2 separate regions of the Homo sapiens genome follow, and region 2 is linked to region 1. The links come from fine-mapping of genetic effects on gene expression. Tissue or cell type: whole blood. Region 1 holds a variant in brackets; the other region holds the start of a gene. All regions are shown on one strand. Distances are between the middles of the regions.

Evidence for each region. PIP is the estimated chance that this variant, and not a neighbour inherited with it, causes the effect.
Region 2: it holds the start of DNAJC3, and the variant in region 1 is fine-mapped to the expression of DNAJC3 in whole blood (INTERVAL, PIP 0.99).

Annotation. Positions count from the first base shown.
Region 1 is chr13:95,823,798-95,831,690 of GRCh38, forward strand. The region is part of intron 38 of UGGT2 (UDP-glucose glycoprotein glucosyltransferase 2); the gene reads right to left. Among named protein-coding and RNA genes, the nearest start is that of DNAJC3, 150 kb to the left of the region's middle. The variant C/T (reference allele first, on the strand shown) is at 4,220.
Region 2 is chr13:95,674,627-95,680,971 of GRCh38, forward strand. It overlaps DNAJC3 (DnaJ heat shock protein family (Hsp40) member C3), which reads left to right and starts at 2,513. Exons shown (of 12, transcript NM_006260.5): 1 at 2,513-2,711. The coding sequence starts at 2,630. It overlaps DNAJC3-DT (DNAJC3 divergent transcript), which reads right to left and starts at 2,299. Exons shown (of 2, transcript NR_132117.1): 1 at 1,226-2,299; 2 at 1-42. RefSeq lists enhancers at 1,603-2,450, 1,714-1,813, 2,451-3,297, 2,644-2,693 and silencers at 2,334-2,573, 2,804-2,893.

The sequences.
Region 1 (7,893 bases):
TATTAGTTGTTACCTAGATAAACTGTTGTTGTTGTGTTAGTTTTACAGGCTCTGTGAGTTTTTTATTTTTTATTTTTTGCTTTTAAGAAGTTCTATTTTAGTGCATGTTGAACTTTTGTTTCAGGATTTAGAACTTCTTTTAGCATTTCCTATAGTGCTGGTTTGGTAGTAGCAAATTCCCTGAGCATGTGTTTCTCTGAAAATGACTTCATTTCTCTTTCGTTTATGAAAGGTTTTAGTTTTACTGGATTTATTCATTTTGCTGGATACAAAATTCTTGACTAACAGTTATTCTGTTTAAGGAGGCTAAAGATAGGACCCCATTTCCCTTCTAGCTTATAAGGTTTCTGCTGAGAAGTCTGCTGTTAGTCGGATAGGTTTTCTCTTACAGATTATTTGATGCTTTTGTCTCACAGCTCTTAGAATTCTTTCCTTCTAGTTGATTTTAGATACCTGACAACTGTGTGCTTCGGTGATGATCTTTTCATAATGAAATTTCCGAGGAGTTCTTTGAGCTTCTTGTATTTGGATATCTAAATCTCTAGCAAGGCCAGGGATGTTTTCCTCAATTATTCCCTCAAATAAGTTTTGCAAACTTCTAGCCTTCTCTTCTTCCTCAGGAACACCAATTATTCTTAGGTTTGGATGTTTTACATAATCCCATATTTCTTAAAGACTTTCTTCATTTCTTTTGATTCCTTTTTATCTTTGTCTTATTGGATTAATCAAAAGCCTATCTTTGAGCTCTAAAATTCTTTTGTCTACATGTTGTAGTCTATTGTTGAACCTTTCCATGGCATTTTATAGTTCCCTAAGCATGTCTTTCATTTCCAGAGTTCTGATTGATTTTTCTTTATATCTCTCTAGAAAATTTTTCATTCATATCCTGAATTTTAAAAAAATTATGTTGGTTTTCACCTTTCTGTGGTATCTCCTTGAGTAGTGTAATAATCTTCTAAATTCTTTATCTGGTATTTCAAAGATTACATCTTGGTTTGGATCCACTGCTGGAGAGACCGTGTGATCTTTTTTGGGGGTGTTAAAGAACACTGTTTTGTCATATTACCAGAATTACTTTTCTGGTTCCTTCTCATTTGGGTATACTATTTCTTCTAATTGTTCTTTATTTTTTATTTGACAGCATTTTTAATTTCTTCTTTCCCCCTTAAGAATGTGAGTTTAATGTTTATTATAGCTTAATTTGGTTATTTGTGCTTTTGGGAGTGAAGACTCTATGAATTCCTTGGTTGTGGAGAGTCTTTCTATGATGGCTTCCTCAGATGTGGTTGTAATAGTCATGTACTCAGTGTGTTGGCAAGTTTGCTATCTCCTATGGAATTGTAATGGCAGAGGTCTCTTGAAGCTTACCTCATTCCCCTGTGGTGTGCACTTTTTAATTTAATTTCTCCCCAGTATTTTATTTACTGAGTTGATGGTTCAGGCTTCAGGATAGGAGTGGTATCCCTGGGTAGGAACCTGTTGTAGCTAAAGCAGGTGGTAAATGTAATATCCAATGGTGGACAGAGGTACCAGCCTTGATGAAGGTGGCTGAGGGAGCTCTCAATTAGATGCACTGATGTCTTAACAAGGGGAAGAGTGAGAGCCACCTCAGCTTCCTTGCCAGGCCAAGCAAGAAAGCTATCCAACTCCCAGACTCACTCTTATCCCAGTGGTCCAGCTATTCAGGTATTTTTATCTGTAGGCATGTTGATGTTCTAAGGAGAGAGGAATTGTGACTGCCTCTTGTGCAAGCCTGAACCTGGAGGATACCTCTCCTGCGGCAATGCAGTCACCCTGAAGTGTTCCAGGAAGGCTGTCTATAGGTTCAGCCACACTGAGCTCCTGTGGGAGAAGCCCCAGCTGTGTCTGCAGTGGTGGACAAGGTGGGAAAGGTCTTCTCCAAGACCCTCCAAGAGCACCAAGTCTGCCTGAATGTTGGGGTACAGCTCCAGACTTTTTCCTGCTGAGCCTAGCACTGCAATTATGTCTCTGCTGAAAGAAACTCCCACCAGCAGAAAGATCTGGGACTCAAGGCCTGTTGTCTGAATTCTTTTGTCCCACAGGTTGCTCCCTTGATGTGGTGCTCTTCCCCTTCTCCTAGGAGTAGGAGTCTCTGAGAACCAGACTACAGTGATTGCTACTGCTCTTCTGTGTCCAGCCAACCTGTAGGGCCAAGTGGAGTTTATTCTAGGAATACAAGGATGCTTCAATATTAGAAAAAATGATTCGATATTAGGAAATATATTAATATAGTTATAGATTATAATTTATAATAAACTACAAATAATGTTGTAGTTTATAATCTATAAGTTGAAAAATTATGTGTCACCTCTATTTCTGTTGAATAAGTTGATAAAATGCAACCAATTCAACCCATCTTTGATAAAAATATTAAAATAGGAATCAATGGTTATTTCCTCAAGATGATAAAAATATTCTTCTTCAGTCCAACACTATTATCTTAACGGGGAAACATAGAAGTTGGTCAACCACAGTAAGGAAAAAGGCCTACTACCACCACTTTATTATTTAACACCGTATTAGATGTATAAGTCAAAGCAAGTAAAATAAACAAACAAACAAACAAAAACAGTGTGATGTACAATGATCAGAAAGGAAAAGGGAAAACCATCTTTATTTGGAGATAAGATGTGGGTATTCCTGGAAAAACCCAAGAGAATAAGCTGAAACATTACTACAACCAATATAAAAATTCAGTATGATCATGGGAAATAAAGATCCATGTATAGAAAGTAGTCTTTATGTACAAGCAACCACCAGTAAGAAGATATTCTTCAAGAGAAAAATTCCATTTATAACAGTAGCAAAGAAAAGCTTAAACTATATATATATATAAGCTATATGATTAAAATGTTATGATTCTTGAGGAAAACTGGACTTGAATATATAGAAAGACAATGTATTCTGAGACAGTAGTTTCCATGAAGATGTCAATTCTCTCAAGCCAACTAATTAATGTAATCCTTTCTCTGACCATCCCACACAGCCCCCCAAGAAAAACACAGAAAATTTTCTGAAACTAAGTTGATTCTAAGGCTTGTATGGAAAAAAAACAAGAATACACAGAAAAACAACAAAAAAGAAGAGTAATAAGGAAAGGCTAGCCTTACTTGATATTAAAACATAATATAAGTCCTTAATAATTAAAGTGGTATGTACTTGGCACATGTATAGACAGAGACCAATGGAACGGAATAAAAAGGGCCAAACAAGACATCCTAATATTGGAATTTAATATATGATAAAGATGGCAATACAAATGTGTGGAACAGAAATTAATTTCTTCCAGTGTCAGGCAACAATCCTCTAGAAAAAAACAGGCAAATGACAAGAACAGCGGAAGAAATACTAATGGCCTTTAAATATATGACAAGATTCTTAACTCCACCCATGTTATGGGTTTAATTCATATTTCAAAAATACATGAATTTTGGTCCCCACAAAATTTACAAGAATTCTAACTTCTGGTATCTCCAAATGTATCCTTATTTGGAGGCAGGATCTTTACAGAGGAAATCAAGTTAAAATAAGGTCATAAGCGTAGACCCTAATCCAATATGACAGGTGTCCTAACTGAACAAGGACAGAGAATGTGAAGACAATGTGAAGACACATAAGGAAAAGAAAGCCATTTACAAACCAAGGAGAGACGTCTGTGTTAAATTCTTTCCTCGCAGCCCTCAGAAGGTATCAACCCTGTGGACACCTTCATCTTGGACTTTCAGCTTCCAGAACTGTGAGACAATAAATGTCCAGTTTAAGCCAGCCAGTTTGTGGAACTGTGTTATAGCAGCCCTAGCAAACTAATATAATGAAAAAGAGAAATGTAAATTATAAAAGATATACTATATCTCAAGCCATCCTTATAGAGTTAAACAAGAATTCTGGACAGAAGTATGGTTAACTATTAGTCAGGCAGCACTTTGACCCACTTCCTTGTAACTGAAAGTTACTTAGCACTAGATACTGACCATTTGCATCCCCATTGTTCTTGTGGATGGGATTTCTGACATCAGAATCATAAGGCTTTTAAGAATTGCCTAAGCAGATCGTGAGTTCCAGCAGAACAGCTGACACCAACCAGTTTGAAGATCCCCACAAAGTAACCAATTCAGCATGAGAATATAGTTTCTTCATCTCCCTATACCACGACTTCACCTTGCACTCTTCGACCAATCAATGCTCTCCATACTCTGGC[C/T]CCCTCCAAAACCCTTAAAAATCACTAGTCACAAACTGCTCAGGGACACAGACTTGAGTTTTCATTCTGTTTCCTCATTTGGCAGCCCTATGATTAAACCTCTCTCTCTGCTGCAACCTGGACATATCAGAATCTCTGGGACACACTTAAAGCAGTGTGTAGAGGGAAATTTATAGCACTAAATGCCCACAAGAGAAAGCAGGAAAGATCTAAAATTGATACCCTAACATCACAATGAAAAGAACAAGCTAAGCAAGAGCAAACGCATCCAAAAGCTAGCAAAAGACAAGAAATAACTAAGATCAGAGCACAACTGAAGGAGACAGAGACACAAAAAACCCTTCAAAAAATCAATGAATTCAGGAGCTGGTTTTTTGAAAAGATCAACAAAATTGACAGACCGCTAGCAAGGCTAATGAAGAAAGGAGAGAAGAATCAAATAGATGCAATAAAAAATGATAAAGGGGATATCACCACTGATCCCACAGAAATACAAACTACCATCAGAGAGTATTATAGACAACTCTACGCAAATAAACTAGAAAATCTAGAAGAAATGGATAAATTCCTGGATACATGCACCCTCCCAAGACTAAACCAGGAAGAAGTTGAATCCCTCAATAGACCAAGAACAGACTCTGAAATTGAGGCAATAATTAAGAGCCTACCAACCAAAAAAAACTCCAGGACCAGACGGATTCACAGTCCTATTCTACCAGAGGTGCAAAGAGAAGCTGGTTCCATTCCTTCTGAAACTATTCCAATTAATAGAAAAAGAGGGAATCCTCCCTAACTCAATTTATGAGGACAGCATCATCCTGATACCAAAGACTGGGAGAGTCACAACAACAAAAGATAATTTTAGACCAATATCCCTGATGAACATCAATGCAAAAATCTTCAATAAAATACTGGCAAACCAAACCCAGAAGCACATCAAAAAGCTTATCCACCATGATCAAGTGGGTTTCATCCCTGGAATGCAAGGCTGGTTCAACATACACAAATCAATAAACGTAATCCAGCATATAAACAGAACCAAAGACAAAAACCACATGATTGTGTCAACAGATGCCGAAAAGGTCTTTGACAAAATTCAACAGCCCTTCATGCTAAAAACTCTCAATAAATTAGGTATTGATGGGACGTATCTCAAAATAATAAGAGCGATTTATGACAAACCCACAGCCAGTATCATACTGAATGGGCAAAAACTGGAAGCATTCCCTTTGAAAACTGGCACAAGACAGGGATGCCCTCTCTCGCCACTCCTATTCAACATAGTGTTGGAAGTTCTGGCCAGGGCAATCAGGCAGGAGAAAGAAATAAAGGGTATTCAATTAGGAAAAGAGGAAGTCAAATTGTCCCTGTTTGCAGATGACATGATTGTATATTTAGAAAACCCCATCGTCTCAACCCCAAATCTCCTTAAGCTGATAAGCAACTTCAGCAAAGTCTCTGGATACAAAATCAATGTGCAGAAATCACAAGCATTCCTATACACCATTAACAGACAAAGAGAGAGCCAAATCATGAGTGAACTCCCATTCAGAATTGCTACAAAGAGAATAAAGTACCTAGGAATCCAACTTACAAAGGATGTGAAGGACCTCTTCAAAGAGAACTACAAACCACTGCTCAAAGGAATAAAAGAGGACACAAACAAATGGAAGAACATTCCATGCTCATGGACAGGAAGAATCAGTATTGTGAAAATGGCCACACTGCCCAAGGTAATTCATAGATTCAGTGGAAAAAACTACTTTAAAGTTCATATGGAACCAAAAAACAGCCTGCATTGCCAAGACAATCCTAAGCCAAATGAACAAAGCTGGAGGCATCATGCTACCTGACTTTAAACTACACTACAAGGCTACAGTAACCAAAACAGCATGGTACTGGTACCAAAACAGAGGTATAGACCAATGGAACAGAACAGAGCCCTCAGAAATAATACCACACATCTACAACCATCTGATCTTTGACAAACCTGACAAAAACAAGAAATGGGGAAAGGATTCCTTATTTAATAAATGGTGCTGGGAAAACTGGCTAGTCATATGTAGAAAGCTGAAACTGGATCCCTTCCTTACATCTTATAGAAAAATTAATTCAAGATGGATTAAAGACTTAAATGTTAGACCTAAAACCATAAAAACTGTAGAAGAAAACCTAGGCAATACCATTGAGGACACAGGCATGGGCAAGGACTTCATGACTAAAACACCAAAAGCAATGGCAACAAAAGCAAGAATTGAGAAATGGGAACTAACTAAACTAAAGCGCTTCTGCACAGCAAAAGAAACTATCGTCAGAGTGAGCAGGCAACCTACAGAATGGGAGAAAATTTTTGCAATCTACCCATCTGACAAAGGGCTAATATCCAGAATCTACAATGAACTTAAACAAATTTACAAGAAAAAATCAAACAACCCCATCAAAAAGTGGGTGAAGGATATGAAGACACTTCACAAAAAACGATATTTATGCAGCCAACAGACACATGAAAAGATGCTCATCATCACTGGTCATTAGAGAAATGCAAATCAAAACCACAATGAGATACTGTCTCACACCAGTTAGAATGGCAATCATTAAAAAGTCAGGAAACAACAGATGCTGGAGAGGATGTGGAGAAATAGGAACACTTTTACAGTATGGTAAGGCTGTAAACTAGTTCAACCATTGTGGAAGTCAGTGTGGCGATTCCTCAAGGATCTAAAACTAGAAATACCATTTGACCCAGCCATCCCATTACTGGGTATATACCCAAAGGATTATAAATCATGCTGCTATAAAGACACATGCACACATATGTTTATTGCGGCACTATTCACAATAGCAAAGACTTGGAACCAACCCAAATGTCCAAAAATGATAGACTGGATTAAGAAAATGTGGCACATATACACCACGGAATACTATGCAGCCTTAAAAAAGGATGAGTTCATGTCCTTTGTAGGGACATGGATGAAGCTGGAAACCATCATTCTCATCAAACTATCACAAGGACAGAAAACCAAACACCGCCTGTCCTCACTCATAGGTGGGAAATGAACAATGAGAACACCTGGACACAGGGTGGGGAACACCATACACTGGGGCTTGTTGTGGGGTGGGGGTAGGGGGTGGGATAGCATTAGGTGACATATCCAATGTAAATGACGAGTTAGTGGGTGCAGCACACCAACATGGCACATGTATACATATGTAACAAACCTGCACATTGTGCACATATACCCTAGAACTTAAAGTATAATAATAATAAAAAAAAATCTCTTTTGTAAAACTTCTCTCCCTTACTTATATACATATCTATACACAAACACATACATACAGACCTATGATTTTTCTTTAATGGAAACGAGATCAATTATAAATATTGCTCTATAACCTATTTTTTAACTTAAAATATGCTGCCAGCACAAATACATTTACCTTGTTTGTCTTGAAAGGCTACACTGTATTTCATTGTTTGTATCAATGTTTATGTAACCAATTGTCTATTGATGGACAGATTATTTCTATTTCATTGTTAAAAATAATGCTATAATAAACACCAATATAGACATCATTTTTCTTTTTTTAAGTTTGTTGAAGTGAATTGCTGGGTGAAAGGGTATACAAATTTTAAGTTTTTATACATATAAAATTTCCTTAACTTATACAGCTAC
Region 2 (6,345 bases), 150 kb before region 1:
CATTACAGGTGTGAGCCACTGCGCCCAGCCTAGAAATGTTTCCTAGAAATAAAAGCACAAGTTTGTAAACATAAATGTGGAAGGATGTATATGGTGGCATTAACTTAATGCTGACTTTTTTGTTCTTAATTTGGCACAAAAAGGTGTTTATAAGTGCTCTACTTGTTTCTGAACATTTATTTCTCCTCATAGTTAATTCCTAAACAAATCTTATTCCCTTTACCTACAAAATATGTTCTAGATCTGTTCACTCCTCTCTACCAACATTGTTTTTCCTAGTCAATAAACATAGATCAACCTAATAAAAATTGCATAATACTCTTAATTTTGGATATATCATAAATATGCTACCATTGTTTTTTAAGTCTTTTGCTACTATAATTAACAGTATGAATTACAGTGGAGATTTAATGTTTAACTTCAAAAAGACTCCATAGAGTCTGACGAATGCAAACATATTTACAGTAACTTTTCTTACACTCACTAGATTACTTTGATTTTCGGTTTTATTGGCAAGAGTGATTCGTGAAAACCATGACTAGATGAACATTGGAGGAAACATTCCCAAGCATTAATCACTTAATTTTAGTTTTGTACATTTTTTTCTGTCTAATGTTACCTTTGTTGTAAAATTATCTTTTTTTAAGGAATGCTTTGTAAAGCTTAGTTCTAATATTACAGAATTCATAGTTATGTAATTAATCTCAAAATCACTCACCATTGAAGACCCTTGCTATTTTTATTTCCTATAACACGAAGTCTATTATCTCCTTAATAATTTTTAATTTCCATCCTTAGAACTTCTTCAGCTCTGCTACTTTTTCCTTAAGGCCAGGGTCATAGGCAGCACACTGGTGATAACTCACTGTCTAGAAATATTGCATTTTGTTTACAAAGTTATTTTCTATGTTCAGCATTTTGCTGGCTGCCTTGGGTACAGTACCTCAATTGAATGTCTACACCTGCATATTTGTGGACATTGAAATCATCTACCATTTTTCAGAGACACTACCTTGTGATATAAAAAAACAGAAGCCAAAAAAAAAAAAATCCCAAGGAATTTCTGAAGGAGCCTCTCTTCACTACTCTGCTCTTGTTAGAATAATGAGTAACACTGGTATAACATTCTACAATTTACAAGAATATTTATCTGCTTCATGAAACCTCAAAACAAACCTTTGAGACTATCAGGATCCTAACCACTTTACAGATGAAGATAACTTACATAATAGTTATGGGGTTTCCTGGATCTGACTCCTTTATTCTTCACATTACATTATGTTGCCTTCCCCACAACTAATCAAGGACTCCGTTTTTTCTTTTTTCTTTCTCGAAACCATTTCCTCCATATTAGTTCCCTTTGGAATAGAAGCCTTTTTAAAAGTCCACCTTAGTATATCTTCAGGGAATCACAAATTCACTATGCTATTTATAATTCATGAGTTTCTCTAATGGTATCAAGGCAGCAAATACAGGTGAAGTAATAATTATCCACCTGATAGTACTTAACACACATACCCCGTGTAAAAATACTGCTGGTGTACAGTGTGTGTGTTGGTGACGCCGGAGGAAGTGGCCGTGAACAGGCTTAATGCCGCATTGAGTAACTTCAACCTCATCTTGCTCAGGTTCATATCTCTCCTGAATTTCCCCTGGTAAGCGCAAGATTCAGGATCCGTTCTCACAGTTTTTTGTTTACCAGTTGATGTTGGCTGCATTCAGGAACGCCTTGCTCTCTTAAGCCACAGTGCCTTCCTGGTCTCTTCTTCACAGGGTCTTCCACAATCGCTCTTTTTCCTGGGCACGGTGGTTTGCTGAAAGTCGGGGTGGGGGGCGGGGCGTTCCCAAGTTTCCAGGCCAATTACCTACCTGCCTTAGAGCAATTACGCACTTCTCTCTGGTAGTCCCTGAAATGTTCTAATCATCAGATCGCCCCAGCTTCTCCTGACCGTTTCTTGCTTACGGCTCAGTTCAGACAGTATTTGTTCCGGGACGCTCAGCGGGAGGCGGTTTTTACCGGCTCACTCGAGACCCCAATTCCAGGCGCCCTGCAGCTTCCCTCAGACTCCCCGGGACCGTGTTTGGCCTTCCCATTCGTACGCTGCGGCTGCGCTTTCCTCTCGTAACACCACGCTGGCGAACCTGGAAAGGATCAAATAGTCCCACTCGCCAACCTAGCGCGGCGGGACCGGCCCAAAAGGGCCTTTGCAGCCTGCGCATGCGGACTCGGCGGCCGCCACCGACTCCCCGTCTGCTTCCCTCCGGGCGGCAGCCGCGGTTTGGAGCTTGCTGACAGCTCTGCGACCGGCGGGCGCAGCCTCGTCTCGTGCTTCCACGTTATCCTATCAGGGACGGGGCGGGGCGGCGGCCTCCGCAGCCTATCAGCGCGAACCACGACCCCGGCGAGCCCGGGAGGAAAGCCGCCAGAAAGAAGGCGATTGGATGGCGGCGGCGCTCTGGGGCGTAGCGTCGCCCGGGCCCCGCCCACCGCTGCCTTCCTCTGCTGGGCTCCAGAGCCACTGAGGCCTGAGCGAGAGCCGACGGCGGGCGGGCGCAGCTGCTGCCGGAGCGCCGGCGCGTGCTGGTGGGCCACACACCTTTCCTCCTCTTCACTCGCGAGCCCTCGGACATGGTGGCCCCCGGCTCCGTGACCAGCCGGCTGGGCTCGGTATTCCCCTTCCTGCTAGTCCTGGTGGATCTGCAGTACGAAGGTGAGTCCTGCCCTGCCCCGGCCAGGAAGTGGGCTCCCGGACCAGGCCCCCCGCGCTTTCCCGTCTGCGCCCGGGCGCCTGTCCCGGAGCGGCTCGGGAGGTGGGGCGAGCGCTGGGGGAGCCCGCGGCCTGGCTTGGGCCTGAGCCCGCGCCCGGTTCCGGGTTTGTCTGGGGAAGAATCGAGGGGACTGGCGGGCCGCGGGGCCGGGACAGCGGGTTTGGACTAAGGAACCGGGCCGCAGGAGTCGGAGGAGGCGGGGTGCGGGGGCACCGGGCTACGACTTCAGGAAGTCCTGGGACGCGGAGACTTGGGCAGCCTTTGGGTCCTGGCCTCGCTTGGGACCCTCGCTGGGCGCCTGGGGACACTGTCAGTCATTGGTGCTGGCTGGGAGGAGGCACTAAGGTGGCCAAAAGACTTCCTTCGCTCTGGAGTTCTTGGGTGGGGAAGGAGTGTCATGTCCGGCTGGGAGTTGGAGGGGACAGTGTTGACTATTTAAAAAGTGTGTAACCATCCCCATTAAGATGCACTGTCGTGTAGAGAAATTGTTAGTTTGGTGCAATGAGGAGCCGCTGTTGGAATTCCATCTCCCGGACGGCCAGGCACTGAGTTTGTGGTTTTACAACTCCCAACATGGTGTCATTCAACGTATGGCTGGCATTACTTTTCCAAGTTCGCTGTAAAAAGGTTCCCTTAAAAAGATACGAACGATTAAATTTCACTTCAGTCCTGCAGACTGGAATGTTGGCTACTCCAGAATAGCGAAAATAGAGGGCTGTCCTATCTTAGATGGCAGCGGGGAGGAGTAAGAATTAAAGTTGATAGTGCCGATTTAACGAATGCTTCTGGCGCGGTTACTGTGCGAAATATTCGAGTGTAATGACACATCACATGCACTGATCTATTTTCATCCCCATAAAAAGGGCTAGTTGTCAAGGAGGTCAAATTAAACCTTTGAGTATTCCATTCAAAGGGAGCGAGGAACTAAAAATTGGGAATTGTTTATAGTGAATTCTTCTGAAAGTTCTCAACTTTTTTTTTTAAAGTAGTACTCCCCAGTTTTTAGGTGTCACCCATAGCAATGGGCTTTTGCTTTTGCTTCCCCTGGTAACCATATTTTTTGAACCCCAAATCAGAACACGTAGTGTGGCAACATTGGGACAAAGAATTTGACAGTGAGGCTGCCCCCAGAAAAATCTAGGGGATTGGAATTTGAAGGTCTGTACCACTTTAATATGGGTCATATATTCTAGTTCTTTTGCATTTTCAAAAGCTTCATTCCTCCTGCCCCCGCACCCCACCATCCCTCATCTGTAGTATTTATCTCCAGTTATCATTAATAATTTATTTTGGACACTTAAGAGAAAGTTGCCTATGTTCTGTTTAATGGTGATTTTTTTTTTTAAGTTACAGAGATGCACAATTTTGAATGATTGCTTTTCCCACTACTTTTTAGAATTGCTGTTCTGTATATGAGTCTGTAAGGACTCTTAACTCTTCATTTCCCTCCTGTGGTATTTTCCATAAGAAAACCACATTTGAGAGCTTTTCTGTGTAGGAGGCACTGGTGACATTTCTCAGAGGAGTGCCAGAGTGTCTTCTTTAGGACCATTGTCTGTGTAAAATAGCAGGGACTTAGTACAGGTAACAGAAAAAGGAAAGAAAGGAGCCTTTCTGTAAGCCATATCTTATTCACGAAAGCGTGTGGTATTCATTCCTACTTTACAGACCAGGGAACTGAGGCTCCAAAGGTTTTACTAAAGTTCATTTTGTGTGCACGCTGGAGACAGAAGTTAAGTAGTTGACAACATCATGTGAGTCCAAGCACTTTTAAGTGATGGCAGCTGAGAAAAAAAATCAGCACTTTTTTTTTTTTTTTTTTTTTGTAATTAACAAGAAGGTTATTTCCTGGGAGGTTTAATACAGTGGTTCTCAAACTTGAGTGTGCATCAGAATCGCACATGGAGGGCTTTTTAAAACAGAGTGCTGTACCCCACTTACAGAGTTTGATTCATTAGGTCTTGATGGGACCTGAAATTTTGCGTTTCTAGAAAGACCCTGGATGACCACACTTGAGAACCACTGGTGTAATAAATTATATAGAGGAGTTAAATTAGGTGTCTGCTATGTATTTGACACTGGATTTGGTGATAGGGATATAAAGGTAAGAACTCTGACTTGAATTAGCAAACCGTTAGCCCCTGTTTTCCCAAATAAATTGTGTCTGGATTCACTAATCTCATAGTTCTCTGAAAGGCAAATGGTGCTACTGCTAGGCCTGAGGCTTAATAAAATTGTGTTGTATTAAGGATTTTTGTTAAATAGGTAGGTTTTAGCTGCTCTTGTCACACAAAAAGTAATTATGTGAGATGATAGATATATTAATCTGCTTCACTCTTATTAATCTGCTTCACTATTGTAACCATTTTATGTGTGTATATCTCATAATACTATGTTGTAAACATCAAATATATACAATACAATTCACTTTTAAAAAAAGAAATGAAGGAGAATGGTTATGAGAGAAGTGAATGTGGAACTAAGAGTGGCACAGGATGGGGAAGAGATAACCTAGTGTTTTTCTGATTTTGAAATATTTGCCTTTGTTTTCTTCTAGATTTTTCTGTTAATTGTCATCCAGAGACAGAAAGTATATATCATGAATTGAAAGTTTGAGTCTTTTGGCACCCTCCCTTCTCAAAGGCGTTTGAAAGAGTGAAGTCTAAAGCACTAGATGAGATCGAATTTTTGGAATAGAAAGAAAACTTTAGTAGTATCTGCTTTAGTATTCTCATGTTACAGATAAGGAAGTTATTTCATTTCTTTGCTAATGGTTTGTCCTCTTGGTGACTTGAGTAGCAACACAGCCTGGGAACGAAACCTTTTTTCTCTTATCATAGTTTTATCTCTTTTTCTTCCTTAACATGCTATCTGGACCCAATTTTTCTTTATTTCATTGAGCTGATTAAACCATATATTTTGGCCATGGGGAAAAGAATAGTTGAAAATATATAGTTGAAAATCTATACGTATAAAATATTGTGATAAGTTTTATTTGAACCATGATAAGTTTTATTTGAACCTAACCTATTAAAGGTATGTTTTGTCTTTTCTAGGATTTTCTTGACATTATCTAAATAGGGAAAGAATAAAGTAGCAAAAATGAGTGACTTTAAGTAATTTAAATAAATTAAGTATCATAAAAGGTGGTCACATATTTTCTAGAATTATTTTAAATTCTTTAATAAGATAGGCTGTAGTTAGCAGTAGTATCAAAGTTCCAGTTCTCTTGACATAGTTAGTATTTGCTGAGAAACTGCCTGGAAATGCAGTGGTTTTCATTCTGTGAGGTAGGGGAAGTTGTTCTGGGAGGGGATGCACTGTAGTAATTAGGTTTTATTTTCCCATATGAAGTTAATTAATTGTTGTTAAGTTTAATTTCTACTGCTGTGGTCTCTTTTGATTAGTGTCCTGCAGTTAATCTTTGTTTATATGGAAGTATCATGGGAACCCATTCACCTGCTCTTCAGAACGCAAACATTTCAACCATAGATTTATTTTTCTTTCCATATCTTTAGAAAGCTACTTAAAAAAATTAAATCTGATGAGTTTGTATCATTTGGAGTTCTGGAATAT